3 linked regions of the Homo sapiens genome follow. The protein of the gene in region 3 interacts with the protein of the main gene of each other region in a pairwise test. Each region holds a gene or a part of one and is shown on either strand. Other genes may lie near its edges.

Region 1 (7,553 bases), on a different chromosome or scaffold from region 3:
CTCACCAGCTACCCTTCCCCCACCAGGAATCCCCTTCATGCAGAGTCAATGAGGAGAGGAAGATGTCACAGAATCCGTGGAAGGAAAGAAAACAAAAGGTGGGTGGGGAGAAGAGTTGGGAGTGTAGCATTGTAAGGGTCCTATACTATGCGTATTATTTGAGGGTTGGCTGTGATTAATTAAAGGTGTTTCTTGCAGACAACCATTACACACACACTCTCACACACACACACACACATATATATATATATATACAGATATATATATGTGTGTATGTATATATATATAATAGAGAGAGAGGAGGTCTCACTCTGTCGCCCAGGCTGAAGTGCAGTGGCCCAAACACAGCTCACTATACAGCCTTGACTTCCCAGGCTCAAGCAATCCTCCCACCTCAGTCTCCTGAGTAGCTGGGACTACATGTGTGGGCCCCCATGCCTGGCTGCTTTTGAAATGGTTTGTTGTAGAAATGGGATCCTGCTGTGTTACCCAGGCTGATCTGGACCTCCTGTCCCCAAGCAATCCTCCAGGCTCAGCTGGAAGTGTTGGGATTACAGGGATGAGCCACTGCACTTGGCTTAGACATGTTTTTAAGAAGCATAAATACGAATTTCAGTGTTGCCATGAAGTCAGGCAGGGGTTGGCAAACTATGGCCCACAATCCAGATGCAGTCCCCTCCTGTCATGGTGAATAAAGGTTTATTGGAGCCACAGTTCCTCCCCTGTGTTCACTTCTTGTCTGTGGCTACTTAGGGCTGCAGTGGCGAAGCTGAGTAACTGCTGAGTAGGTGCAACAAAGACCACAGGGTCCACGAAGCCCAAGATGCTTACTACCAGGTCCTTTGCAGAAAAATCTTGCTGAGCCCTGGGGAGGGGCCAGGTGGCAGCGGGGAGGCCAGTGGGGAGGCTGGTACAGTAATCCAGGTGAAAAACGATGAGAGCTCAGATTAAAACTATCATGACAAGTGGCTGGAATCAGGATATATTTTGGGGAAAGGACCAACAATACATAGATAAAATGGACAGTATTTAGAGTTTCAGATTTTCTTTCTACCAAAGGATCCCTTTCTAAAAAAAAAAAAGAGTACAAAAGATCAATTTTAAAAACTGACCAAAGAAACACCACCACAAGATTATTTGTGTGATTGAAGCTGGGGTTGAGCCTGGGTACCTTGTGTTTTCAACACCCCTAAAACCCCGGCTGTTCCAGAGGCACCTACAGAGCCCCTTGGGTTCAGACGAGCAGAACTTGAAACCATGGATCGGAAGGAATAGAAATCTGCATATCTTTCACACAAGCCGTAACATTCTAAGCCGCATATTTGCAGGACGCTGACGTGGGGCTACTTCACCCACAGCCAGCAAGCGTCTGCGCCAGTTCTGGGATTTGTGTCCACCTTGTTGTAAGAAGGCAGCTGCTTGCGTGAGGCATGGCGGTGAGGAAACAATGCCACCCGGATCTCACCATTGGCCGTGTGGACTGGCTGTACCATGGGCCAGACGCATGTCTTGGGCAGACACTTTTTAGATGCCAACTTGCCTGTAGACAAAGATGACGCAGAGGTGGCCTCGAGGACGGCCTGTGTGATGGGTTGAATTTGTCCCCCGAAATTCCTGTGTTGATGTCCTAAGCCCCAGTGCTTGAGAATGTGATCTTATTTACAGATATCATCTTATAGAAATAAGTTAAAATGAAAAATGAGGTCAGTAGGGGGGCCCCCAATCTAACTACTGGTGTCGTTATTATAAGAAAAGGAAATGTGGACAGAGACACACAGAGGGAAGACGAGGTGAAGAGACACCGGGAAGGCCACCTACCTGCCAGGAGAGAGGCCTGGAACAGAGCCTTCCCGCACCGCCCTGAAAAGGGACCTTCCCTGCCGACACCTTGATCTTGGACCTACAGCCTGCAGGACTGTGAGACAGTGAGATTCTGTTGCTGAAGCTGCCCAGTCTGTGGTACTTTAAGGAAGCCCAAGCAAACCAATGCAGCGTGGTAGCCCACAGCTGGTGAAAAGATGGAATGAGCGACGGAGCCCCAGGCTTCCTGTCTACACCTCCCAAAGTGCGCTACGGGATCCTTTGGTGGGTGCAGGTTTGCAAGATAATTTTAGGAGGTGCAGGGTGCATAATTTCAATGTACATTATTATGGATTTATCTTACTGTGAAAATGCTTCTAAGAATAGTTTACTTAAGGTTTACATGCTACTCAAGATATAGCTTTAAATGCTAACAAAAAGTGGACTCAAATGAAAACATTCTCTTGCTGTGGTCCAGGGAATCTTGATGTTTTTTCCAGAGAGACTCGCAGCTTTCAGCTACAGCTGCCCTCCCCTTCCTGTCCACTGCACATCCCCACAACACACACACATATACATACATACATGCACAGACATCCACACGCACACACATATACGTACATGCACACGCATACATGCACACACATATGCATGCACACACCTGCACACACACACACACACACACACACACACACTGTGCGTCATGCCCTTACTAAGGAGGCATGGAAGGGAATGTGTGTCTGTAAGGAAATGAAGATGGCTCAAGCCCCTGGTTCCCTGGGTGTTTGCACAGGCACCCTCCCTGCAGACCTTTCTTTGGTCTCTTTCTCTCTCTTAGTGAAAGAGAGAAGCAGAGCCCCAGTGGGTACCCGGCTGCTTAGGGCTCAACCCAAGGTCACAAGCTTCCTCGAGAGCCTGGTGAGATGGGGGCACCACAGGGCCTCCCAAACCAAGGGGGCAGCGTTCAGTGGAGCCTGATGCCCAGGAAAGTGATAGACAAGATGTCTCAGTTCATCAAAGACCCAACCACAATGCAGTGAGGAAGGGCAGCTGCCAAAGGTTTTATTCTCCAGGAGGAGGGGCTCTCGGGGGCTGTGAGCAGCAGGCACGAGGACTTTATTGCACGTGTGGTTAGGTGATGACGACCTACAGCTGCACTGGGAACTGGGACTCAGAGTGCCCCGACCTCCTGCTCTATCTCTCTCTGTCCCTCTCTCCCTCTCTGTCTCTCTGCCTCTCTCCCTCTCTGCCTCTCTCCCTCTCTGCCTCTCTCCTTCTCTGCCTGTCTCTTTCCTTCTCTGCCTCTTTCCCTCTCTGCCTCTCTTCCCCTCTGTCTCTCTCTCCCTCTGTCTCTCTCTCCCTCTCTGTCTCCTCTGTTTCTCTCCCTCTCTGCCTCCTCTGTCTCTCTCTCCTCATATCTCTCTCCCCTCTCCCCACCTCTCTTTCTCTCTCCCCTCCTCTCCATCTCTCTCCCTCCTCCTTTCCCTCCCTGACCCCCATTTATGCACCTGGGCCCCCCTCCTGGGCAGGCACACACACAATGCCAAGGCCACTGTCTGGGATGTGTGGGCAAGGCTGCAGGACTGTGGTCCTGGTGTGGCACCCCCACCTTCCAGCACAAGTGGGGTCGGGGGTCCCAGGCGTGACTGCGCTCTCCTGCGTGGGCGCCCTGCACTCAGGGAAGCAGAAGCTGCAGGTCTCCACTGGCTCGGGGGATGTGCTCACAGGGCTGCCGGCTTCCATCGCGTGATCTGCAGAGGCGAGAGTGGAGGGCGTGGGCCAGGCCTGGCCCTGCACTAGGGTAGGGGTGACGGTGTGGGCAGCCGCACTCTCCCCCGACCCAGGAGCTAAGGGCAATCACCAGCGTAGAACGCCCCCAGACAGGTGTCAGTGTCCGCCAGTTGCTGACCAGAACCTGTGCCGGGGCAGGGGTGGGCAGGCAATTCTTGGCTCTCACTTCTGTCCAGCACCGAGCCTGCCACGCCCCCCAAGGGGACACCTCCTCCTGGGCTTAGCCCTGAAGGCTCTGCATCTGGAGAATCCTGGGCCCAGGCAAACCTGAAGACCGGCACCCCACACCCACCCTTCCCGGGTGCCACTCTCCCAGTTATCTGTCTGCCAGGATGTCTTAACCTGATTTTATCAAGGTATAGCAAGTAACAGGGATGAGCCCTGGGCCTCTCCACCTAGAAGCAGGGGCAGTGACAGGACCGAGGGATGGCCCGAGGCTTGTCACCCAAGCAGCGAGAAGGGCGAGGACCCCAGTTTCATGCACTCACCCTGGGAAGACTTGGCCGGACTTTGACGGGGCCTTGAGCGGGGCTGGCAGGAGCAGGGATCCCCCCTCTTCTTGAGGAAGCAGGCCACCGCCACCAGGAAGCAGCAGAGGACGGCACACAGGCAGAGCCCCAGCGTGCTGTAGACCAGGGCCACCTGATCTGCACTCAGCTTCAGCCCCGGGAGAGCTGCAAGACAGCATGAGACCCCTCTCTGCAGTGCCTTCTTCTCTTCCCGTCATTAGGCTCAAGCAATCCACATCCCCCCATCCCCCTGCTGTGAGCCTGTCTGGCTCCTGGAGAGGCTGGGCTCCTTTTCTGACCCTGAGGCTGCTGGGATGCTCTCTGGATCCTGGAGGAAGTTGATCCACTCCCCCATCCTGGCAGCAACTTTCTAAGGCCTCAAAGCTGGAAACGTGAGCTAGGCCTTCTTGTTGTCTCCACTTGCTAGGGCTGTAATTGGGACAGCGCTGGAGATGGGCTGATGGGTGAATCGACAGACGAACAGACGATGCTCCAGGGAGCATGTCTCTGTGCATCCTGAACTGGGCCCTTCCTCCAAGGAGAAAGCTTCCTGAGTGAGCGTTTACAGTCGTCCCTTGGTATCCATGGGGGACTGGTTCCAGGATCCCCTACAGATACCAAAATCCGCGGATGTCCAAGTGCCTGATACAAGACGGCCTGGCATTTGCATATAACCTATGCACATCCTCCTATACAATTAGAGTCATCTCTAGATTACTTATAATACCAAATACAATATAGATGCCATGTAGAAGGGTGTTATACTGTATTGTTTAGGGATAACAATGAGAAAAAATGGCTGCAGAGGTTCAGTACAGATGCAACTATCCCCTATCTTTTCTGAGTATTTTCCAGCTGCTGTTGGTTGAATCCACAGACATGGGTCGCACGACACAGAGGGCCCACTGTGTTTGAGAGTAGGACAGGCGACGTTACACTGAGACCAGGACAGCAGGTGCCAACCAGGAGGGCTTTGGGCATCAGGGCACCTGGCCACCCTATGACTCAGGACTTGTGCCTCCAGGTTTGGATGCCAGAGACAGACTCAGCCCAGGTGAAAGCCCTCCCCTTGGAAGTTCTCCTTATCCCAAAAGCTCTTCCTTGTCCCTGGAGCTGGGCATCCTCTAGGCGCTGGGTGGAAAGACAGATGAGCCAGATTTAAGATGACACGTCAAGAAGAGCGAGTCCCACTTCGTGCCGGGCACTTCCCCTACAGCACCCCCTTCATCTTCCCGCTCTGATGGCAGACAACTACCCCCATTAAAAATACTGAGAATTTGTATACCATCAAATTTGCTGTATTAAAGTGTACAACCAGTGGCTTTTAGCACATCACAAGGTTGTGCAGCAATGGCAACTGTCTAATTGGAGACAATTTTTATCACCAAACAGAAACCCTGTCTCATCAGCAGTCACTCCCCATTCCCTCTTCCCAGCCCCTGGCAACTGTTCATCTCTTTTCTGTCTCTGTGGATTTGCCTATTCCAGACATTTCATATTAATGAAATCATACAACACGTGGTCTTTTATGCCTGGCTCCTTGCACTTGGCTTTGAGTTTTCAAGGTCCACCATGTCCTGCCGTGCTGTGTATTAGACCTTCGTTTCTCTTTAGGCGGAATGGACAGACCACATCTGTTTACGCATTCAACAGGGAATGGGCATTTGGGTTGCTTCCACTTTCTGGCTATTGTGAATGACGTTGCTGTGAACATTCACATCCACATGTTTGTGTGGATGGATGTTTTCCATTTTCTTGGGTGTATACCTAGGAGAAGAATGGCTGGGTCACATAATAGCTCTGTTTTGTTTTTTGAGGACCTGCTGGACTGCGTTGCACAGCATCTGCCGTTCACACTCCATTTTACAGATGACAAAACTGAGTGTCTAAGATATTGTTCTCGGTCTTAGACCTGCACCCGGGAGCCGGTCTCACCAATTCCCAGGCCGGTGCTCCAAGCCCGCGGGCCACACAGCGGCCCCAGGGCTGGCACTGCCCGTCTTCCTCACACACGCTTTTAGATTCAGGAATCTCATAAAGTGACAGAGCTGCCAGGACTCTTAGGGGTCATCAGTGTCACTCTGACATTTACAGGGGGGAGATGGGAACTTGGGGTGAGTTCGTGTCACTCCGCCAGTCAGTGGCTGTCCTTCTGTCCAGTGCCCAGAGCTCAGAGAGGCCTAACGGAGGAAAGCAAAGACCCCAGGACCTGCAAACTTGGTGCCACATATCCAAGGCTTACCTGCTCCTATTCACCTCTCAAATCAAATGCAAACACTGCCCTGGAGGCATGAGCAGGGGAGACGCTACCAGCCCTCAGAGCACAGACAGAATGCCAGGCTACAGGTTGTTACTAAGCGGAAATGAACGGCGTTGATTCAAGGAGGAAAACTAAACATTTGTGCATATTTCAAACATTTCATCATAAGATTCTGAAACCCAGCTTTCAGAGACCATGCAAGTGTTCAGAGACCACACCCAGAGCACAGTCACCTGACATCATGCCCTGTGGACCTTCTGGGCTGGACTGGGCCTCATCCTATCCAGGAGAGTGCCATGGGGGCGAGGTTGTGCCACTCCAGGCCTCTGCCTCAAGAAGGCCTGACAGCCTCGGTGTTTGCTCCCTTGGGCCTGAGCTACCACTCGAGAAGTCCAACTGGAGAGTCCCAGTGGAGAGGGGCAAGCCCTGAGATCAGCTGGAGGGGAAGCAAGGCCTGAATATCCCAGCATCAGAGTCAAGCCTCCAATGGCTCTATCCCCAGCACCATCTGCATGACAGACCCCAAGCAAGAGCAGCAGAAGACCCGCCTAGCTGAACCCTGCCTCCCCACAGAGCCACGCAGGGTCACAACATGAAGATGAGGATCTGGTGCCAAGTGTCCAGATCCAGTGACAAGTGTCCTTATACAAGAAGAGAAGGGAAGAGACACAGGCACGAGAGAGAAGCCATGTGAAGACAGAGGCAGAGATGGGAGTGATGCAGCCACAAGCCCAGGAGGCCTAGTTCTGACCTTATTCCCAGAAGGGGTCACGGGCACCCCCAGTGTCTGCAGGACACAGAGGCTGAGCAGTTCCATGGCTGATCACATGCCAGCACCTCTCCCTCCAGTTCTAATCTCATGCCAATGCACTGTCCTTCTGTCCCCCTCCCAGGTCTCTGGTTCCTATTATTGCCAGAAGTAGCCTCTCACAGGGCCCCTGCTGCTATCGCCACCATCCAGGGGCAACAGAGAGCTCTCCCCACAGCCCTGCTCTGACCCCCTTCTCCCATGGCTGCCCCTGCCCCCAGCAGGACATCAGCCTCCCAGCCTGGCACATAGGGCCCTCTGTCATCTGGCATCTGGTCCCTCCTAGTGCCATCTCCAGCTGCCCCTGAATCCTTGCTCTTCCCAACTCAGTCCTCTGCAACCCCCATGTTGGGGGACAGGGTCCTGCCCTTGGTGCTTTTCCTCG
Region 2 (12,836 bases), on a different chromosome or scaffold from region 3:
CAAAAGTATGCTCTGCCTGAAGCTGGAGTTTAAGTTACATTTTAAGCTCAATGTTCTGTTTGTTCCACAATGTCTACGGTCAGAGCAGCATTTTACAGGATGATAAATTACCCTCGTTTAGCTGAATCCTAGAAGTGCATGTCTGACCATGAAACCCTCCAGTTGCAGCTCTGAAAGGCACCAGGGGGTCCACTTTCCAACCAGAATCATGAGCCAAGAGCATTCATTCCTTGGCCTGACTTCAGCCTTTCCCAGTAGATTTGATCCCATGATTCTACCAGTGAAAGAAATCTTCTACTGTGTAACATCCCTGCCTGACTCTGACGTACAAAGGTGTAATTAGAACAGTGTGGAGCAGGCAGGATGATCCATTTACCTCATCCCTAACATTTAAGTGCTTTCAAAATATGTTTTTAATATCTTAGGTGCACAGGGCCAAATTATCCTCTCAGTTTTTCACATGCATGAGTAAATCCACACAGACTAAACCCCTTGGGCCTTAGGTTCTGCTTAGAAATTCTTTTTTTTTTTTAAAGAAAACAAATATCCCATTAAAACGACAAAGTGTACTCTGCATATTTTTAGGACAATTAGAGTTTAGAATTCCCTCTCCTTCCACCCATGGCTTAAAAAAATAGAAAAATTCTTAACCATTTCCTTACGAAGAACGACATTAAACTGGGACAAATGGAAAGGCTCTCTTGCCTTTTACAGCAATCTTCTCATCTTACATCATCAAAGTACCAACTGATGGATCAGGGCCCTCGATATTGTTTGGGAAGGATCCAGGCTCCACTGTACTGTTGCCAGGTAAATTTTTTAGGTAGACAGTTACTAGTGAACTGAAGGGAAACACTTACTTGAAACAGAAAAGCCAATCTCACAGGAAACAGAGAAACATAAAAGTAAGGATGCTTCCTACCATTTGCTTGATTCAAAAACAGGTCATGCAAATAAAATTATGAAGAAGAGGCTGCCGCAGGCTGGCCACGGCCTCAGCCTGTGGGCAAGAGATACAGACAGACCAAGTGGGAGGGGCTGGAATCAGTCCCAGTCTGAAGGAGACCAGGAGAGGGAGGAGAGTCAACCCCAGCCCCACACGTCGTGCTTCACTGTGTTGGTAAGTTTGTGTTGCTGTTCATACAGCAGCTCTTTGCCCATTAGCAGGTGCTGCTGGGCCACATGTGTGGATAATATTTGCCAAGCCAACATACAGGTCAAACGTTTTCTTGCAACCAAGCTTGGAGCAACATCTTAGCAGCAGTTGACCTGTCACTGCATGTTCAAAGTCCAAAGACTCCAGGGCTGCCATATTTAAACAGAGAAGTCCATGTAAGACCATCTGCAGCTTGTTTTCCATTCATTACAAAGCATTTCAAAGGATGAAAAGCCAAGCCTCATTCACCCCATGGTTCAGACAGAAATAAGATACGCCCTCAGGAGATACTGACTTGGGAGAGGAGCAAAATCCAGAGATGTCTTGGGAAACGTATCTGTGATGTCTTCGAAACTAACAATTATATTGAAAAATCAAACAAAGAATTCATGACTTCCCAGGAGGGAAAAAATGTGTTTATTTATTTAAATTAAAAAATATTGTGAAAATTACAAAGTGTTAAATACAAAAGACAATTCTATACAACTCAACAGAATAAGAAGGAAGTATATACATCACTTTTTAATAGGTGCAGAGAGACTTGCACCAAACTTCAGGATTAAGCAATGGAAAATGTGACAAGGCACATGTCCGTCGCAGTGAAATTTCAGAATTCAAGTGATTCCAGGCAAGAGGCCAAACTTAACTTGGCTTCTTTCAACTTAAACAGCCCCCTTTGGCATAAGTCCACACTGAATTTTAAAGTGAACAGAGGGCCTTTTTCCCCCAAACATAAATTTCCTTTAGCTGTATGTCAAAGCGGACTGATAAACCAGCTCCTACACTGTTAACCCTTCCATGGCAACAGTAGTTATTGCTGTGTCTCCAATCCATGCAGAGCATTTTTCTTTAAAAAAAAAAAAAGTGGCCGGGTGCAGTGGCTCATGCCTGTAATCCCAGCACTTTGGGAGGCCGAGGTGGGAGGATCATTTAAGGCCAGGAGTTTGAGACCAGCCTGGCCAAAATGGCGAAACCCCATCTCTACTAAAAATCAAAAAATTAGCTGGGCGTGGTGGCAGGCGCCTGTAATCCCAGCTACTCAGGAGGCTGAGGCAGGAGAATCGCTGAAACCCAGGAGGTGGAGGTTGCAGTGAGCCAAGATTGCACCACTGCACTCCAGCCTGGGCAACAGAGCGAGATTCTGTCTTAAAAATAAAAAATAATAATAAATAAATAATTTTTTTAAAAGTTTTTTTAAATAGATTTAAATTTGACCTTTTACTTCCTCCTTGTCTTTAAGGGCCTAACGGATCTGCGAAACTGTTGACCACAGGAATACTTGGAGACATTGGAAGCATTCCTGTGTGTTTTCCTTTAGACTTTGCTTTCCCTTAGCTGGGAGTGTTAACATCACACATTCTCCAGAGAACTTTGCAGAGGAGAATGTGGTGTCTGCCTCTTTCCTTCAGTCCTGGGAAAACTACAGCAGGGCTGGGTTGGTAGCTTGCCCTGAATTCCCCAGTTATATGTGTTCTGAATCTCCAACTGCTCCTTTAAATCAGCAGATCCTTGTTCAGACTAACCGGCCAAAGGGGAAGCATTTGGTCCAAGCTTCCTCACACCAGGCTGTGGAATATTTATCACAGAGTCCTAAAATCTAAAGACATCCTCCCAACCCCCTGGGGATGGAGATCGTCGGGAGCCTCATGCAGACAGCGAGCTTCTTGATGACATGCCCGGGACCACACAGCAAATGAGTGTCAGGGCTCGGGATCAGGAAGCACAGAACTTGGAGCCCAGCTTTGTGCAATCTCCGCCTGAGTATGCCCTTCTAGGTCTCAGCTACGTGACGAAATACCACATTATGTCCTCTCCCAGCTCAGAAAACTAGGCTGGGAAACTGAGCAGCAGCAGAGCTAACGGCTTGGCCTTGTTCAACCCCACTTTACCCCTTCTAGAAAGATCAGGAAGAGTCTCCTGAACCACCATCGGGAGTGCAGGTTAGATTCTGGGGAAGCTCTTCTGATCCAAAGAACGTCATGCCATCATGTGATGCTGCATGGTCACAGGTCAGAGTTCAAGGTCATAAGTTAGACAAAAGGTCAAAATAGAAGATCATCTCTTATAACCCCGGCCAATGTTAACAGGTTTAAAAGTTACTTTTTTTTCTTATAGTGTGCAAATGGGCTGGGTTCAGATCTCCAGCTTTCTCCCATCAAAAATCCCCCTCTAATCCAAAAGAAGCTTGTAACCCACTGTGAAGGAATGCCACAGGTACACAGTAGAGATACTTACAGCCAATCAGATCTAGAAGGACAAAGCTCTAGGCAAAATAGCAAATCACAACTAGTCTCTCAGCGTGTCCTAAGCATTCGGCAGCCCTGGGAACAGGCAGACCCTGCAGGAGCTACCCAGGGCATCCAGTGAGAAAATGGCAAACATATCATCCCGCCAAATTCTGATCAGAACCCCAACACCCAGGCCCCAAAGTCAGTGTACGCGCTGCGCATCTCCGCGGCTTTTTCAGTGGTGGGTGCAAACCACAGGCACCTCCCGGACTCCTTGGAGGTGCTGGTTCCGGCTGAGCCTAGTCCCCCACCCCACCCCGAATCAGGGGTTTACCAAGGGTCTCTTCAAAGTGGCAGCCGCACTGTGAAAGTGAAACCAGACACTTGAAAACTGTCTTTCCTCTCTCTAAGGTTGCTGGCTGATGGAGCCACCGGCAGGGGTCCCGGGGGTGCTAGGAATTCTGATGGATGTTCTCCGAGGACCCTTCGCTGCTCTCGTTGAGGGGCGTCTCCGAGGTCTCCTCCAGCTCATCGTCTGCCCCCTCCTCCTGAATGGTGAGGTGCACGTCCGGGGAGGAGGACTCGGAGCTCACGCTGTCCCCTTCCATGGAACAGAGGGTGCAGGACAGCGCGGGCGCCACGCTCTCCTGCAGCATGTTCAGCATCAGGGGCACCTGCACCGACCTCAGGCCCGACACCACAGGCAGCGGCTTCATGGCCTCCCCCCAGAGCCGCTCCTCGTCTTTGTACAGCAGCAGGAGGCTGGACTTCTTCTCCCGCCTCTTGGATTTCATGTAGCCCAGCATGATTCCGATCAAGAAAATGCCGTAGAAGGACATGACAACCAGAATGTAGAAGTACTCGTTGCCATTGCCGCTGCCGCCGCCGGCCGCACGGGACTCCAGGGGGCTGCTGGAGGCGGCGGTGCCGGGGTGCGTGCTGTTCAGAGGCTCCATTTTCAGCATTGAGGCTGCCTCCACAGCAGGGGCTGGGGAAAAAGCCGCAGGTTAGAACTCTCCCCCAGGTCCTGGGCACAGGGAGGTGGGGGAGCACGAGGTTTGTGGAACTGCAATACCAAAAAAGCTTAAAAGTGCATGAAAGAAATAGCATAAGAGGGTTCGCCAAACAGCTGACAAGAGTGAGCTATGAGGGCTTGGAGTGCACGGGAGAGAAGCCCGGGAAGGTTCACTGGGAAAAGTAAGAAGGACTTTTTTTTTTTTTTTTAGTGTACACATTTGTCCTGTTTGTAGTGAGCAGTATTACTTTGATTAAAAAAAAAATCAATGTAAGACAGGAGCATACAGTAAATAGTATCTTTAAAACTGGGAAACGTATTTTAACTGAGCAGAAACAAAGTTTACATTGTGTTTCCAAAACCAAACTATTTTAAATTCAAAACAATGTTTCCTTAGAACAAAGAAAAGCAGGAAGAAAATAAAGGAAAAAAATTCATCTATTAATTGGCAAAAATGTCCCTCTTTCAAATGTTTCTGAAAGCAAAGTGTAGCCTTGCTGACTTACCAAGGCTGACAGTTTGTCCCAAGTTTTGAATTCCCAAATCGTCCAGTCCAAGAGGGTTCTTCTGCTCTGTCCGGCTCTGCGCTCTGACAACTCCGCTGCTGCAGTTGGGATATATAGTCAAGAAGTGCATCGTCACGTGCTCTGGGAGGAAAATTTACAACAGAGATTGATCGTGGCAGAGTGAGCAGTGAACTGAAAGCACTGCAGTTCAACTCCCTGAACTTTGCAGCTGTGAAAAGTGAAAAAGACTGGGAAGTGGGAACTGCTCCTCAAGCCCCAGCACCCGGCCAGGGTTTTCAGGTAGCGGTGACGATGAGTGAAAAGAGGAGAAAGGGATGTGCTGTGCTGGAACCGTTACCCCAAAGTCCGCGCTCACTGAAAATTAGCTCATGCTTCGCGCGGCTCCTGGGGAATAACCATTATTGGGCTACAGGTTTTCAGAGGCAGCTGAATCCCATAATCTGGATGAAAGACAGTTGGAAGCAAGTGCGGGATTTACAGTCAAGGAACTGGGGCTTCGGTTTCAGTTCTTCCACTCCTTATGCAAATAAGATAAATCCTTCCTTAACCTCTCCGCACCTCACATTCCTCGTCTGTAAAATCGTTGTGCCTGGCGGGGGGGGGGGTCTTCTGCAGGTAGGATTATATAAACCACGTGACCTTTTGAGACCCTTTCAGCTTAACCCTTCTAAGATTGAAGGCTGCCTGGTGTTGCTTAGCCCTCTAAAAGCAGAGATTCTAGCTGCCTTCCACATCAAGGTCACAAACCTATGTTTATAATAATTTTTTTTTAAAAGCTCCCACATTCTTTTCAGTGGTCTGCATTAAGTGGAAACATGTTGTCGTAAAAGATACTATGGGCAGGTTTTGTTCCGTCCTGCCATACACAGCTGCTCCTCTGAAGCCTCATGCGGAGGCTATTGACACGTCTCTTTGCTGTCTCTCGTAGGTCAGGGGAGGAGCAGGACTATTTCAGAGTGCAACTAAGCACAGTTCAAGTTTTTTAAACCTCGGTAGACCCTGTGTTTAAATGGCTGCTGTGATCAAAATTGGAAGAGGAATTGCAGGCTTTAATGTCAGTCTCTCTGCTCCCTGGGCTGCTTATTCTGAGGCTTTCATGCTAAGTGGAAGGAAACTGGGAGAGATCCACTCCCTCCAGTTGTCTGTGGCCTGTGGATTGCAGCCAGACTGTCTTGTGGGCCAACTCTAAAGGAAACATCTCTCATGGTTCTGCTGTAGTCAAACTGACGCATGCGACATCCACCTGACCTGCTTGAACATATATAGCTTAGGCACTGGAATTTTCACTGCTGCTACAGGAACCCCCCTGGGTTTGCACCTGATCCTGATTCTAAGAAGACACCTGGAGGAAGAATAGGAAGATGAACTGAATGCTGCCATTTTTCCCACTTGACTACTCACCTGTGTTCATCCATAAATCCCCAGCTGGCACTGGAGGTACCAACCATCGACCACTCCAGCATCACGATCATCCATACAGTGGAACTGTGCTCACACCAGTAAAGATACCCTCACCATTGTGTTAATACGTAAAACCCTCCATAGCTACCTCAGCCATGGTAGACTTGGTCTTTTCAACAGGTGTCCATCATAAACACTAGAACACTTCCATCTATATCTAAGCCTACACTGGAATGTCTGGGACACTAGAACAAGATGGGCCCAAGAAAGAGATGCCTGTTGATTGTTGACCCTGGTATTTTTTATTGTATACCTTAGGACATACGAGATTGGTCATCATCCAGGGATTGTCCAACACCAAAGACTGGAAGCTTTGAGTAGGCAGAAAGGAGGTGGGGATAGGAGTTACCAGATTCAAGGAGCAGGAAGTACAAAGCCTGGTGCCAGGAAGCCAAACAGAGGCTGAAGTTTTAAACATAATAAATCCCCAAACCTGAGCCAACAGTCCCAAGGGAATACAACCAAGAAAAGAGATGAGTGTGGGGAAACATCGAGAATGAATTCCAAAGGACGAAGCAAGTCAGAGCCAAAGGAAAAGCAGGACTAATTGCAGGAGTCAGGGAAGGAACAGCCCAGAAGAAATTCTGGGGTGCCTGCTTGGAGTCCCTGCTGCCCCGATTCCCACATACTTCCTGCATGGATATTTCTACTAGAGTTAAACGAGGCCAACTGCAGTGTCTTAGTTCAGTAATCCCAATGCTTGAAGAGGCTGAGGTGGATGAATCACTTGAACCCAGGTGTTTGAGACCAGCGTGGGCAACACAGTGAGACCCCATCTCTACAAAAAAATACAAAAATTAACTAGGCCTGGTGGCGAGTGCCTGTAGTCCCAGCTACTTGGGAGGCTGGGGTGGGAGGATCACTCGAGACCAGGAGTTCAAGGCTGCAATGAGGTCTGAACATGCCACTACACTCCAGCCTGGGTGACAGAGCGAGATCTCTAAATAAATAGAATAGAATAGAATAGAATAGAATAGAATAGAACAGAACAGAATAAAATAGTTCAATGAAATGATGCAAAGAAAGCACCATGTCTGGCCAAATGCACATGCTCAGTGCCTGTGTTTAGTTGTCATTGTTAGGAGTACGCTGTTGCTCCCAAGGGCTTCAGGTTGCCTCCTGTCATGTGTGTGCCCATCTCCAGACTTTTAACTCCAGACTTTTTATCACTGCTCCTTCCCCTGTCTGTCACTCCCAGGAATGGAATTTAAGAGAAGGGAATTCCAACTTCAAAATGCATAGCTCAATCTTCTTCCCAGCCCTCACTCATGACAGGGATTGCGAGAATGATGGCACTGAATAATGGCATAAAGAATGAGGGAGAGAGGGTACATCTAGAAAGTGCACTCTGTCGGGAGAGGATGGGACTGCACAAGAATTATTAATTATATCTACCCCGGGCCTCAGTTTTAGGAGACAGCAATGTTAAAGAAATAAATCAATTTCGGCTAGCATTTCCATTTCCTGAACAGTGTCTTTTCAGGAGCAAACATATCTAATTCTGATGAAGTCCAATTTATTTTAAATGTTTTTGGTTGTGCTGTTTGAATCCTATCAAAGAAATATTTGCTTAACCCAGTCATGAGGATTTTCTCCTGTTTTGCTTCTAGAAGTTTTATGGTTTCAGCCTTACATTTAGGTCTATGATACATTTCAAGTTAATTTTAGTCTAAAATGTAAGATATAGGTCAAGGATTTTGGGGAGGGGTTGTTTGTTTTTGTTTTGCTTATGGATGTCCAATTGCTCCAGCATCATTTGTTGAAAAGACTCCTTTTCCTATTTAAAATTATCTTGGAAACTTTGTTGAAAATCAATTAACCTTATATAAGCAGGTCTATTTCTTAACTCTTCATTCTGTTCCTTTGATCTATCTGTCTATCTTTGCATCGATATTATTCTGTTTTGATAAATCCATTTTAAACTTGTATTTTAAATGAGTCTAAGATACACTGCAGTTCAAATCTAGCTTAGTGTCTATCATATACCAAGTACACATAAGTCCTGTGAGGTCAGGTATTATTACAACCATTTCATAGATAAGGAAACTGAAAGTCAAAGAGTCAAAGAGGCAAAGTTGCTCCAGGTCAAATCACTAGCAGTACAGTCAGTACTTGACCCCAGATCTATGCAACTCCAAAACCCATTCTTTTTCCACTACCTTTTGTCTCACTGAATGGAAAACAAAAAGAAACTGAGAAAGAGTAGGAAGTGAAAGATGGACATTTTTCCAACTTCTTTTGAGTCTTCATAAAACTTTTTTTTTAAAAAAAATGTGAATTCTGACATAACTAGATACTCACACATAAATACACACGTGGAACTACAAGTTGTCTTTTTCTGAATTCATATTATTTTAAGTACTGGAGGCTGCACCAACCTCAGCATGTTCTAGAAGTTATCAGTGAAGCAGTAATACTCTTACCGTATACCTATGTTGTCCATAGTACAGTAGTTTCTCTGCCTACATATACAGCCTGATATGGTTTGGCTCTGTGTCCCCACCCAAATCTCACCTCGAATTGTAATCCTCACGTGTCAAAGGTGGGACCAGGTGGAGGTAATTGAATCATGGGGGCTGTTTCCCCCATGCTGCTCTCATGATAGTGACTGAGTCTCACGAGACCTGATGGTTTTATAAGCGTCTGGCATTTCCTTTGCTTGCACGCACTCCATCCTGCCACCCTGTAAAGAAGGTACCTGCTTCTCCTTTGCCTTCCGCCATGACTGTAAGTTTCCTGAGGCCTTCCCAGCAATACAGAACTGTGAGTCAGTGAAACCTCTTTCCTTTATGAATTACCCAGTCTCAGGTATGTCTTTATTAGCGATGTGAGAACAGACTAACATAAGCCTGTTCTGGTCTTCTTGTTTTAATGTGGGTTTTTTTGTTTGTTTGTTTGTTTGTTTTTTCCTATTTGATCCTGACACACACTTTCTCTAGAGCTTTGAGTACTTTCATTTCCTGGTAACGTCATTTTTACCAGATGACCCAGGAGTCCCTGGCCACACATCTCTGAAATTATGTTAACAGCTTCTGTGACTAAACAAAGTCTATGCTGGGATAACAGCATGGCTGTGAATCTCATCGGATTAAACGTAAGTCTGGAGTCCAGAAATCTGACCCAGCTCAGCCTTGCTGATGCTACGTGACTGGCTGGGTTGCATAATTGCTCTGTGTTTCAGTTTTAGCCACCCTCAGGCATGTCAAAAGTAGCATCATTAATTGTCTCAGGATCCTGAGAAATCTCCCATAATCCACTGGGCTGTCCCCCTCCTGAGCAGACCAGGCTTTGGGTCTGGCAGAATATTGCAAAATGAAATCCTCAGTGCCCACCACTGGTTTTGCTTTTCCCAGAAATTCTGTCTGAAAAGTTCTGTCTGGGAACTCGAGCAGTGGATCATCCCTTCTAATGCCCTGAGTCACCCTCCCTGGACACATACTTTTTAGCATTCCTATCACTAGAAATAAAACAGGGCTGGATATCTGACAGGTCCTTAGTAAGGTCCCCAGGCCCTCCCTGTAACACCAGCTATGCTGTGGAGGATGTGGCTATCAGCAGGTCCTGCTTAGATATCACCCAAAGGGGGTTAAGAGGGAAGAACCAGAACTCCTAAAATTAACAGTGAAGTTGGTATTAATTCACCTTTGTTATGTATTATTCAAGCATTTTTAACCTGATATTTATTTAACAAATACTTGCATAGTACCTAAAAGTGCCTCAGGAATTGCTGTAAGTACTTTGCAAAGTTTATCTTATTTAATTCTCATAAAAAGCCCTTGAGATAGGCTCTGTTATTATCCCCATTATACAATAAGGAAACTGAAGCAGAGAATGCTGGAGCAGCCTGCCCCAGATCACACAGCTAGTACATGGCAGAGCTGGCATTGGAACCCAGAGCTGAAAAAAGAGAAGGGAAAGAAAAAAAAGAGAGAAGAAAAACATTGCCTCTGCCTCTATAGACCTTACCATTGGTGAGGGAGGCAGACAAGAATCCCAAAATTGTGTGTTTAAAGTTGCAAGAATGACAAATATTGCAAAAGAGAAAGGATGCTAGGAAAGTTAATATTAAGGGGATTGAATTCCTTAGAGAAATCAGGGAGGACCCCCTAGAGGAAGTGATCCTTGAGTTGGGATCTGAAGATTGAGCAGGAATTAGCCCAGATGAAGTGAGAAGGTAAGAGAATTCTGGCCAACGGTAATCTGTGGAAAGATCCTTCGGAGGAAGAAAGTGGGGAGGGAAGAGAGATGGCAAGAATGAGGAACTAAAAAGTCTATGGGGACTCTGTCAAGGAACAAAAAGGAACCTGGTAGAAGATGCAGCAGGAGAGGCCAGCATGGGCCAGAAATGTGCCACCTGGGAGCATGAGGACAGGAGACCAAGGAAGTAAAAGATAGATTCCTGCTTTGAAGAGCTCAAGTACCAACTGGGGAGACAACCCCAAGGCCTGGGGCGAGTGTGTGATCATTCAGGACTGACTGAATGCATGATCGCTGAGCACATGCAAAGAACAAACTAAGAGCATACATGCCTGTGCACAGTTAGCACCAAGGAAACCAGAGTGAGGAGTTGACTGACTTAATGAGTGTGTTTGTGAATAACCGTGGGAACACAGACTTTGCTTCCAAGATTCTTATCAAGAGTTCCAGACAGGCCAGGCGCGGTGGCCCACGCCTATAATCCCAGCACTTTGGGAGTCCGAGGTGGGCGGATCACGAGGTCAGGAGATCGAGACCATCCCGACTAATACGGTGAAACCCCGTCTCTACTTAAAAAATGCAAAAAAATTAGCCAGGTGTAGTGGCAGGTGCCTGTAGTCCCAGCTACTCGGGAGGCTGAGGCAGGAGAATGGCGTGAACCTGGGAGGCGGAGCTTGCAGTGAGCGGAGATCGCACCACTGCACTCCAGCCTGGGCCACAGAGTGAGATTCGGTCTCAAAAAAAAATAAAAAATAAAAAATAAAAAAAAAGAGTTCCAGACAATTAAACTAAAGCTCTTGAATGTATCTCAACCACATTTCTCAAGAGCTATCAGTGGTGTGCTTAGAGTAATTCCTGAAACTTTGACAAGGTGACACAGAACTCCCAGAAGCAATAAGACAAATCAACATGTCAGTGAGTGTAGTTTTAAAAGATGGGCTTAAAAGTACGCAGATGGCAAATCCAAGTGTCAGGAACTCAGATCAGATGATGGTACAGCATATAGTTTAAGGGCACAGGCTCTGTGGTCAGGCTGCCTAGGCCTGTCTTGGTTCTTCCTACTAGCTGTGTGACCATGGGCACATTTCTTAACCTCTCTGTGCCTCTCTTAAAGAGGCATAAGAGTATCTATCTCATAAGGTTGTTGTGAGGAAGAAATAGAATTATCCACTATTGCACCTTCTGTTTAGACTGAGCGCCAAGACAAAAATACAAAAGGTTTGAGCCCCTTTCCCACATGAAGAGTGTTTTTTAAAAATTAAAAGTAGAGGATTTTTAAGAAAGAGTCATTGATGTTTTCTCTTCCCCTTCCTGGGGAAGATGTGGGGAATGGGCTGCTTTCTTCTCAAGTTAAGGGAAGTGAGGGGGTGCTTCACAGAGATCACTTGAGAGTCTCAGTGGTCTCTGTGGCCTGTAACCTGCTGGACACAGAGGACTGGGATCAGAACCACACCTAGAAAAATTTGAAGGGCAAGAAACCATGTCTGGCCAGAACTCTGGGGAGAGCTTGCTGAGTTAGGAATGCCCATGCTCCCAGGATTTTTTTTTCCTTTGGGGCGGGGTAGGGAGGGTGGGTGTTTTTTGTTTTTTGTTTTTTGTTTTTTTTGAGATGGAGTTTTGCTCTCGTTGTCCAGGCTGGAGTGCAATGGCACAATCTCGGCTCACTGCAACCTCCACCTCCTGGGTTCAAGCGATTCTCCTGCCTCAGCCTTCAGAGTGACTGGGATTACAGGCACCTGCCACCACACCCGGCTAATTTTTGTATTTTTAGTAGAGACGGAGTTTCACCATGTTGGTCAGGCTGGTCTCGAACTCCTGCCCGCCTTGGCCTCCCAAAGTGCTGGGATTACACGCGTGAGCCACTGCGCCCAGCCGTTCCCAGGGCTTTTAAAGGAAAAGACAGGAGAGTGTTTCCTATAGGCCAGTGGCAGGCGATGCAGGAATGCAGGAGGGAGACACAGACCTGGGCTACATGTTGGTTGGTTCCTGCCCAAGGCAGCCAGGAGCGGGGTGGGAAGTCATGGCCCTGCCCACCAATGACTTCCAGCCTACCCAAGGCCCAAGCAGTGGGAGAAAGAAGAGAAGCAGGCTTCACTCTAAATAAACTTGAGAAGTTACGACCCTCCCATAGGCCTGGACATACAAATTACTGTACTGAGACTATTCAGGGAGACTAGAGAAACCAGGGGGGGTTTCTTACTTAAGAGTAACTAGAAAAGTTGTGAGTCTGCCCCAGATTTTCATCACAGGGC
Region 3 (8,561 bases):
TGTGTGACATAGGAGCTCACAGGAGATATAAATTACTCCAGTGTTTTATGTAAATAAAGCACAAGGAGGACTTCAGAGGAAGTAAAATTAAAAACAGGCCTTCAGGCCAAGTGCAGTGGCTCATGCCTCTAATCCCAGCACTTTGGGATGCCGAGGCTGGGTGATGGCTTGAGCCTAGGAGTTTAAGACCACTCTGGGCAACATAGGGAGACTCTGTCTCTACAACAAATACAAAAATTAGCTGAGCATGAGCCTGTAGTCCCATCTACTCAGGAGGCTGAGGTGGGAGGATCTCTTAAGAGGTTGAGGCTGCACTGAACTGAGACTGCACCACCGCACTCCAGCCCACATGACAAAGTGAGACCCCCGTCTCCAAAAACAACAACTAAAAACAGACCTTCAAAGAAGAGCAGGATTTAGACTGGCAGAAGTGAAAGTTTTTTGAAGCGTTAAGTCTCAGGACAAGTTAGAGGCAGAAGAATGCTTGGAGAACAATGAGTAATTTGTCACAGACTTATAGGAATGTAGGGCCCTAATTGTTATGCAAAGGAATCCACACTTGATTACACATCCAATAGGGTATCACTGAACAATTCAGTATACTTCTGGTGGAAGAGAGAACATTTACTTATTAATTTTCTAGTCTCATTTTTTTAAGAGATTAAAAGCTGAATTTTTCTTTATTATCACAAAATCCAATCATACGGTTTAAAATATTTTTAAATATAAAAACCTATAGTTGGCCGGGTGCAGCGGCTCATGCCTGTAATCCCAGCACTTTGGGAGGTCGAGGTGGGTGGATCACAAGGTCAGGAGTTCGAGACCAGCCTGGCCAATATGGTGAAACCTCGTCTCTACTAAAAATACAAAAAAATTAGCCAGGCGTGGTGGCACATGCCTGTAATCCAAGCTACTTGGGAGCCTGAGGCAGGAGAATTGCTTGAATCTGGGAGGCAGAGGCTGCAGTGAGCCGAGATCGTGCCACTGCACTCCAGCCTGGGTGACAGAGCAAAGCTCCATCTGAAAAAAAAAAAAAACCCTATAGTTACCTAAAAGAAATGAAAGCTTATGCTCACAAAAAGCCTCATACAAGAAAGCTCTTAGTTTTAGTCATAATAACCCCAAAACTGAAAACAACCAGGATGTCCATCTATAGGAGACTAGATAAATGGATATAGTCATACAATGTAGTATTACTGAGCCAAGAAAAAAAAAGGAATTAACTACTGATTTATCCAACAACATGGATAAATCTCAAAAATATCATGCGGAATAAAGAAGGCTTGCACAAAAAAGTAAAATCAAGAATGATCCCACTTACATGGATTACTATGCCAGACACAACTAATCTATCGTGGGAAAAAGTTCTTTGGGGTATAGGGACTGGGACTGCCTGGAAAGGAGCATGAAAGAAACTCCTGGGGTGACAGTGAAGTTATAAACCTTGAAAGAGGTATGGGTTTCATAGGATAACAAACGTATTAAATGGTACAATTAAGACAAGCATTTCAAGCAATCAATTAATTACGCTGGTACCCTACTCTTCATATTAGAACTAATTTTTTTTGTTTGAGACGTAGTCTTGCTCTGTCGACCAGGCTGGAGTGCAATGGCAGGATCTCGGCCCACTGCAACCTCCGCCTTCTGGGTTCAAGCGATTCTCCCACCTCAGCCTCCCCGGTAGCTGGGATTATAGGTACCCACCATCATGCCCGGCAAATTTTTGTAGAGATGGGGTTTCACCATGTTGGCCACACTGGTCTTGAACTCCTGACTTCAGGTGATCCGCCCATCTCGGCCTCCCAAAGTGCTGGGATTACAGGTGTGAACCACTGCACCCGGCCTCAGAACTAATTTTACCTTAAAATTTTACCTAAAAGCCAGGTGCGGTGGCTCACACCTGTAATCCCAGCACTTTGGGAAGCGGAGGTGGGCGAATCACAAGGTCAAGAGATAGAGACCAGAGACCAGCTAATTCTAGCACTTTAGGAGGCCGAGGTGGGCAGATAATCAGGTCAGGAGATCAAGGCTGTCTTGGCCAACATGGTGAAACCCCGTCTCTACTGAAATACAAAAAAAATTAGCCAGGTGTGGTGGCACATGCCTGTAATCCCAGCTACTTGGGAGGCTGAGGCAGGGGAATCGCTTGAACCTGGGAGGCGGAGGTTGTGGTGAGCTGAGATCTCGCCACTGCACTCCAGCCTGGCGAAAGAGCAAGACTCCATCTCAAAAAAAAAAAAAAAGAAAGAGACCATCCTGGTCAGCATGGTGAAACCCCGTCTCTACTAAAATTACAAAAATTAGCTGGGCTTGGTGGCGTGTGCCTGTAGTCCCCGCTATTCGGGAGGCTGAGGTGGAAGAATCGCTTGAACCTGGGAGGTGGAGGTTGCAGTGAGCCAAGATTGTGCCACTGCACTCCTGCCTGGTGACAGAGCGAGACTCCGTCTCAAAAAAAAAAAAAAATGCCGAGCATGGTGGCTCATGCCTGTAATCCCAGCACTTTGGGGGGCCGAGGCAGGCGGATCATGAGGTCAGGAGATCGAGACCATCCTGGCTAACACGGTGAAACCCCGTCTCTACTAAAAATACAAAAAAAAATTAGCCGGCCGTGATGGCGGGCGCCTGTAGTCCCAGCTACTTGGGAAGCTGAGGTAGGAGAATGGTGTGAACCCGGAAGGCGGAGCTTGCAGTGAGCCGAGATGGCACTCCAGCCTGGGTGACAGAGCAAGCCTCGTCTCAAAAAAAAAAAATTACCTAAAGAACCTTAAAACAGTAAATTGTAAGTCAGTGTTATGTAAGAGGGGTGAGGTATACCGATGTGTACACCTACAACATACTTTGAAATGCATCAAGAAAAATTTGATGGAAAAACTTTACAGAGATTATCTTGGGTTTGAAAAATAAAAGAAAACCTGATAGATACATAATATAATAAGATGTTAATTGTAGAATCTAGGTCGTTGGTATTATATAAATGGGTGTTCACGGCACAATTCTTTCAACTTTTGTGTTTATTTATTTTTGAGATGGAGTCTTGCTCTGTCGCCCAGGCTGGAGTGCAGTGGCGCTGTCTTGGCTCACTGTAAACCTCTGCCACCGGGTCAGCAATTCTCCTGCCTCAGACACTGAGTAGCTGGGATTACAGGTCTGTACCCACCATGCCAAGCTAATTTTTGTATTTTCAGCAGACATAGCGTTTCACCATGTTGGCCAGGTTGGTCAAGAACTCCCAGCCTCAGGTGATCTGCCCACCATGGCCTTCCAAAGTGCTGGGATTACAGGCGTGAGGCACCACGCCTGGCCAACTTTTGTGTTTAAAAACTGCTATAACAGGCCAGGTGCAGTGGCTCACACCTGTAATCCCAGCACTTTGGAAGGCCCAGGTGGGCAGATCACCTGAGGCTGGGAGTTCCAGACCAGACTGACCAACACGGTGACACCTCGTCTCTACTAAAAATACAAAAATTAAGTGGGTGTGGTCACTCACACCTGTAGTCACAGCTACTTGGCAGGCTGAGGCAGGAGAATGAACACAGGAGGCGGAGGCTGCAGTGAGCTGAGATCGTGCCACTGCACTTCAGCCTGGGCGACAGAGTGATACTCTGTCTCAAAAACAAACAAGCAAAAAAAACCCTGCTATAACAAAATGCTGTTTTGTTGGGAGAATATATAAAGTCTCCCTTTTCTCTCTTCCATTTACATAGTACCCATATATACATCTCTATCACACACATAAGTATTGTTAATAATTTCATGTATAGTCTTTCAGTTTGTTTATGCATATATAAGCAAAATCAAATAATACATTATTTTTTCTTTTCAAAAAGAAATTAGTATAGATTCTATAGATTCTATTCTGAATTTTGTTTTTTTTTCTCTTAATATTTCTTGGAGAGCTTACCATTGTCAGTACATTGAGAGCATCTTCATTCTGAATAGATACGTTATAATTTTTTTTTTTTTTTTTTTTTGAGATGGAGTTTTGCTTTGTTGCCCAGGCTGAAGTGCAATGGTGCGATCTCGGCTCACCACAACCTCCACCTCCTGGGTTCAAGTGATTCCCCTGCCTCAGCCTCCTGAGTAGCTGGGATTACAGGCATGCGCCACCATGCCTGGCTAATTTTGAATTTGTAGTAGAGACGGGGTTTCTCCATGTTGGTCAGGCTGGTCTCGAAATCCCGACCTCAGCTGATCCGCCCGCCTCGGCCTCCCAAAGTGCTGGGATTACAGGCATGAGCCACCGTGCCTGGCCAATTTTTTTTTTTTAATGTAGTCACTCAGTGGACATTTAGGTTCCAAACTTTGCTACTGCAAAACTACAATCAATGTTTCAAAGGTGATTTTCTTTTTTTTTTTTTGAGACAGTCTCGCTCTGTTGCCCAGGCTGGAGTGCAATGGCACAGTCTGGGCTCACTGCAACCTCCACCTCCCAGTTTCAAGTGATTCTCCCTGCCTCAGCCTCCCAAGTAGCTGGGATTACAGGCACCCGCAACCATGCCTGGGTAATTTTTATATTTTTAGTAGAGATGGGGTTTCGCCATGTTGGCCAGGCCAGTCTCGAGCTCCTGACCTCAGGTGATCCACCCCCCTCAGCCTCCGAAAGTGCTGGGATTAGGGCGTGAGCCACGGCGCCCAGCCTCAAAGGTGAATTTCTTTCTTTTTTTTTTTTTTTTGAGGAGTCTCGCTCTGTCGCCCAGGCTGCTGGAGTACAGTGGCGCAATCTCGGCTCACTGCAAGCTCCGCCTCCCAGGTTCACGCCATTCTCCTGCCTCAGCCTCCCGAGTAGCTGGGACTACAGGTGCCTGCCACCACGCCCGGCTAACTTTTGTATTTTTAGTAGAGATGGGATTTCACCCTGTCAGCCAGGATGCTCTCGATCTCTTGACCTCGTGATCCACCTGCCTCAGCCTCCCTAAGTGCTGGGATTACAGGCGTGAGCCACCGCGCCCCGCCTCAAAGGTGAATTTCTAAACAAATGCTTAATTAAAATTACAATGTTATTTACTCTTTTACTTCTTATATTTGACCTATTTGACCCTTCAAAAATACAAATGCTTCAAATCCATTAAAATCATACACAGGTCTGTCAGCCCATTAAATATAACACGCAGACAGCCAAGTAGCAATTTTTTCAGCAAAAAGCTCCCACAAAATTCGATCACACTAGTTAGGCTATCGTCTATGTCAGGCAAGCCAAGCCTCATAAAACTGTATATATCTGTAGTCAAGTAGGCCAGGTAAACATTGACTCTCAACATCATTCTGTTCTGTAATATTGGCCAAATATTTATTGCAAATATCAGGCCCTCAACACTGAAGATAAAGTGCACTGCTATTAAGTGTCCAATATGAAGTACAATGAGATAATCAAATCCATTTTTTAATTAATTTCCTTTATTATAGACAAAATGAATTACTAAATTTACTAATTAAATTTAATACTTTGCTTAAACAAGTACTATTCACACTTTTTCATGAAGGACCTCAATCCACAGTATTTTTGTAAAACAGAATAACAATGTTATGGCAATGTCAAATTGCTATAAAAGTTTCTAATTACTCTTTTTTTTTTTTTTTTTTTGGAGACAGAGTCTCACTCTGTCACCCAGACTGGAGCAGTGCAGTGGCGCAATCTTGGCTCACTGCAACCTCTGCCTCCTGGGTTGGAGCAACTCTCCTGCCTCAGCCTCCTGAGTAGCTGGAATTACAGGTGTGCGTCACCATACCTGGCTAATTTTTGTATTTTTAGCAGAGATGGGGTTGCACCATGTTGGCCAGGCTGGTCTTGAACTCCTGACCTCAGGTGATCCACCCACCTCAGCCTCTTAGAGTGTGGGGATTACAGGCGTGAGCCACTGCGCCCGGCCAATTACTCATTTTTTGAACTTAATGTATAACAAACACAAACACATAGTTTGGAGATAAGTGGGCAAACCACACTTTGAGTAGCACTGATTCAGACCGTAAGCAGGACTAACATTTTTAAGTTCCTTCAATTAGCTAGTCATAAATCAATCCAAACACATCATCGAAATTTAGAAAAAAAATTAATTTACCTTGGGAAAATATTTGTATAATCCCATGTACGCAAGTTGTAAAGTAAGAAATGGAGCAAATATGGACTGTGAAGATAGAAGATAAAATTAAATATTTCCAACATAATCATTCAAATCACAATAAATCAAACAGCAGCTAGAAAATTCCAAGCAAAAGCTGTAAGAAAATGTTGTTATTATTATTTTTTGAGACGGAGTCTTCCTCTGTCACCCAGGCTGAGTGCAGTGGCACGATCTTGGTTCATGGCAACATCCACCTCCCAGATTCAAGCGATGCTCGTGCCTCAGCCTTCTGAGTAGATGGGATTACAGGCGCCCGCCACCACACCTGGCTAATTTTTGTATTTTTAGTAGAGACAGGGTTTCACCATGTTGGCCAGTATGGTCTAGAACTCCTGACCTCGTGATCCACCCACCTCGGCCTCCCAACATGCTGGGATTACAGGTATGAGACACCGCGCCTGGCAATTGCTTTTTTTTTTTAAGATGGAGTCTCGCTCTGTCACCCAGGCTGGAGTGCAGTGGCTCAATCTCAGCTCACTGCAACCCCTGCCTCCCCAGTCCAAGCAATTCTCCTGCCTCAGCCTCCCATAAAATAGTAATTTTAATGGTTAAAAGTAATCTTTTTTCTGCAGAAGGGTGAAGAAAATAAAATATTTGATTTCCTAACATAAAATATGTTTCTCAAGTCATACAATTCTTTCATATTCTTTTAGCGTCCCCAAAACTGTCTTCTCTCATAAAAACTTATCTTTTAAATTATTTAAAGTATTAAATGGTGACAGATGTTTAACACAGTAACACAGATGCGGTAACATCTCGGTCACCCAGAGGGAATTAATTGATATCCAGGAAGCATACAGAAAAGGCCCAGCACTCAAAATACGTGGCATTCTTCCAGCTATGCAGAAGGCTGAGGCAGGAGGACTGCTTGAGCCCAGAAGTTCTAGTCCAGCCTGGACACCATAGCAAGATCCTATCTCTAAAACAACAACAACAACAAAACTAAATGCTTGGCTGGGTGCGGCGGCTCATGCCTGTAATCCCAGCACTTTGGGAGGCAGAGTTGGGTGGATCATGAGGTCAGGAGATGGAGACCATCCTGGCTAACACGGTGAAACCCCATCTCTACTAAAAATACAAAAAATTAGCCGTGCGTGTTGGCACATGCCTGTAGTCCCAGCTACTCGGGAGGCTAAGGCAGGAGAATCGCTTGAACCCAGGAGGTGGAGGTTGCAGTGAGCCAAGATCACATCACTGCACTCCAGCCTGGCGAAAGAAACTCCACCTCAAAAAAAAAAAGATTTACAAAAACTGTTTTGCTTAATGATATAAACTTTAATTATCTGGATATTTATGTGCCTGGTACATATACTTAAAATGTCTACTGAATGGAAAAACCTCAGAGCAAGACACTGAACTATGAGCTATGCTTTTCTGCATTCTTTAATATACTATAAAACAAAATGACTACATCATGGTACAACCAAAATGGACTCATTATGATATATTAGGAAATGCTGAAATGTCTTCTGAACCATAGGAAGATTACCTCATATTCAGGACCAGAGGAACTGCATTTTACTATTTCAAATTATTTGAAAATTGATAATATACAGTATATATATGTAAAGCACTTAACCCTTTGGTTAAGGACTGAAACTGCCAGGGTTTAATCCTAGCACCGCTTAGTAGCTGTGTGACCTTGGGCAAATGGTTTAACCTCTCTGAGTCTTCATTTCCCAATGGATTCACATAATACCAAGTTCATAAGAATGAGGATTAGATGAATTAATGTATGCAAAACAATGAGAAAGGTCCGTAGAATGAAAAATGGGTTTTAGTACAGTCATCCCTCAGTATCAGCAGAGGACTGGTACCAGGTTCCTCCTGATACCAAAATCCATAGATGCTCAAGTCCCTTATGTAAAACGGCACAGTAAATATAACCTACTCACTTCCTCCCATATACTTTAAATCATTTCTAGATTTTTTATGCCTAATGCAATGTAAATAGTTGTTATACTGTTTTTATTTGTATTATTTACTATTTGTTATTGTTGTATTGTTATTTTTCCCCCAAATATATACACATACATATATTTTTGAGACGGGGTCTCACTCTGTCACCCAGGCTGGAGTGCAGTGCCGTTATCCTGGCTCACTGCAACCTCCACCTCCCGGGTTCAAGCGATTCTCCTGCCTCAGCCTCCCAAGTAACTGGGATTACAGGCGTGCACCACCACGCCCGGCTAAATCCAAATATTTTCAATCCACAATTGGTTGAATCCACATAGGGTGCAGAACCAACTGATATGGAGGGCCAACAGTAATTATTAGGCTCTGTATTTAACCAGAACACTTCATTCTATGAGATGAATAGCAAAGTTAATAATATATCTTCAAACAGCCACATGGATCTGGTAGATATTAATACTGGCAATGACTTCTATGATCAAAAGCACTCATAATTATTAACATTTTGCATTTTCCATTAAGTTAGTT

Evidence for each region.
Region 1: the proteins of CAMLG (region 3) and TNFRSF13B interact in a two-hybrid assay, tested with the Homo sapiens proteins (one study listed by BioGRID).
Region 2: the proteins of CAMLG (region 3) and KCNE4 interact in binary tests that used the Homo sapiens proteins (3 or more experiments, as listed by UniProt).

What each region holds. Positions count from the first base shown.
Region 1 is NC_000017.11:16,936,247-16,943,799, forward strand, and holds the end of TNFRSF13B (tumor necrosis factor receptor superfamily member 13B), read right to left. Parts: intron 4,266-7,553; coding exon 4,080-4,265; intron 3,552-4,079; coding exon 3,301-3,551; 3' UTR 2,835-3,300; downstream 1-2,834. UniProt on the Homo sapiens protein: Receptor for TNFSF13/APRIL and TNFSF13B/TALL1/BAFF/BLYS that binds both ligands with similar high affinity. Mediates calcineurin-dependent activation of NF-AT, as well as activation of NF-kappa-B and AP-1.
Region 2 is NC_000002.12:223,044,344-223,057,179, reverse strand, and holds KCNE4 (potassium voltage-gated channel subfamily E member 4), read right to left. Parts: upstream 4,991-12,836; 5' UTR 4,906-4,990; intron 4,373-4,905; 5' UTR 4,350-4,372; coding exon 3,837-4,349; 3' UTR 1,543-3,836; downstream 1-1,542. UniProt on the Homo sapiens protein: Ancillary protein that functions as a regulatory subunit of the voltage-gated potassium (Kv) channel complex composed of pore-forming and potassium-conducting alpha subunits and of regulatory beta subunits.
Region 3 is NC_000005.10:134,741,548-134,750,108, reverse strand, and holds part of CAMLG (guided entry of tail-anchored proteins factor CAMLG), read right to left. Parts: intron 6,123-8,561; coding exon 6,057-6,122; intron 1-6,056. UniProt on the Homo sapiens protein: Required for the post-translational delivery of tail-anchored (TA) proteins to the endoplasmic reticulum.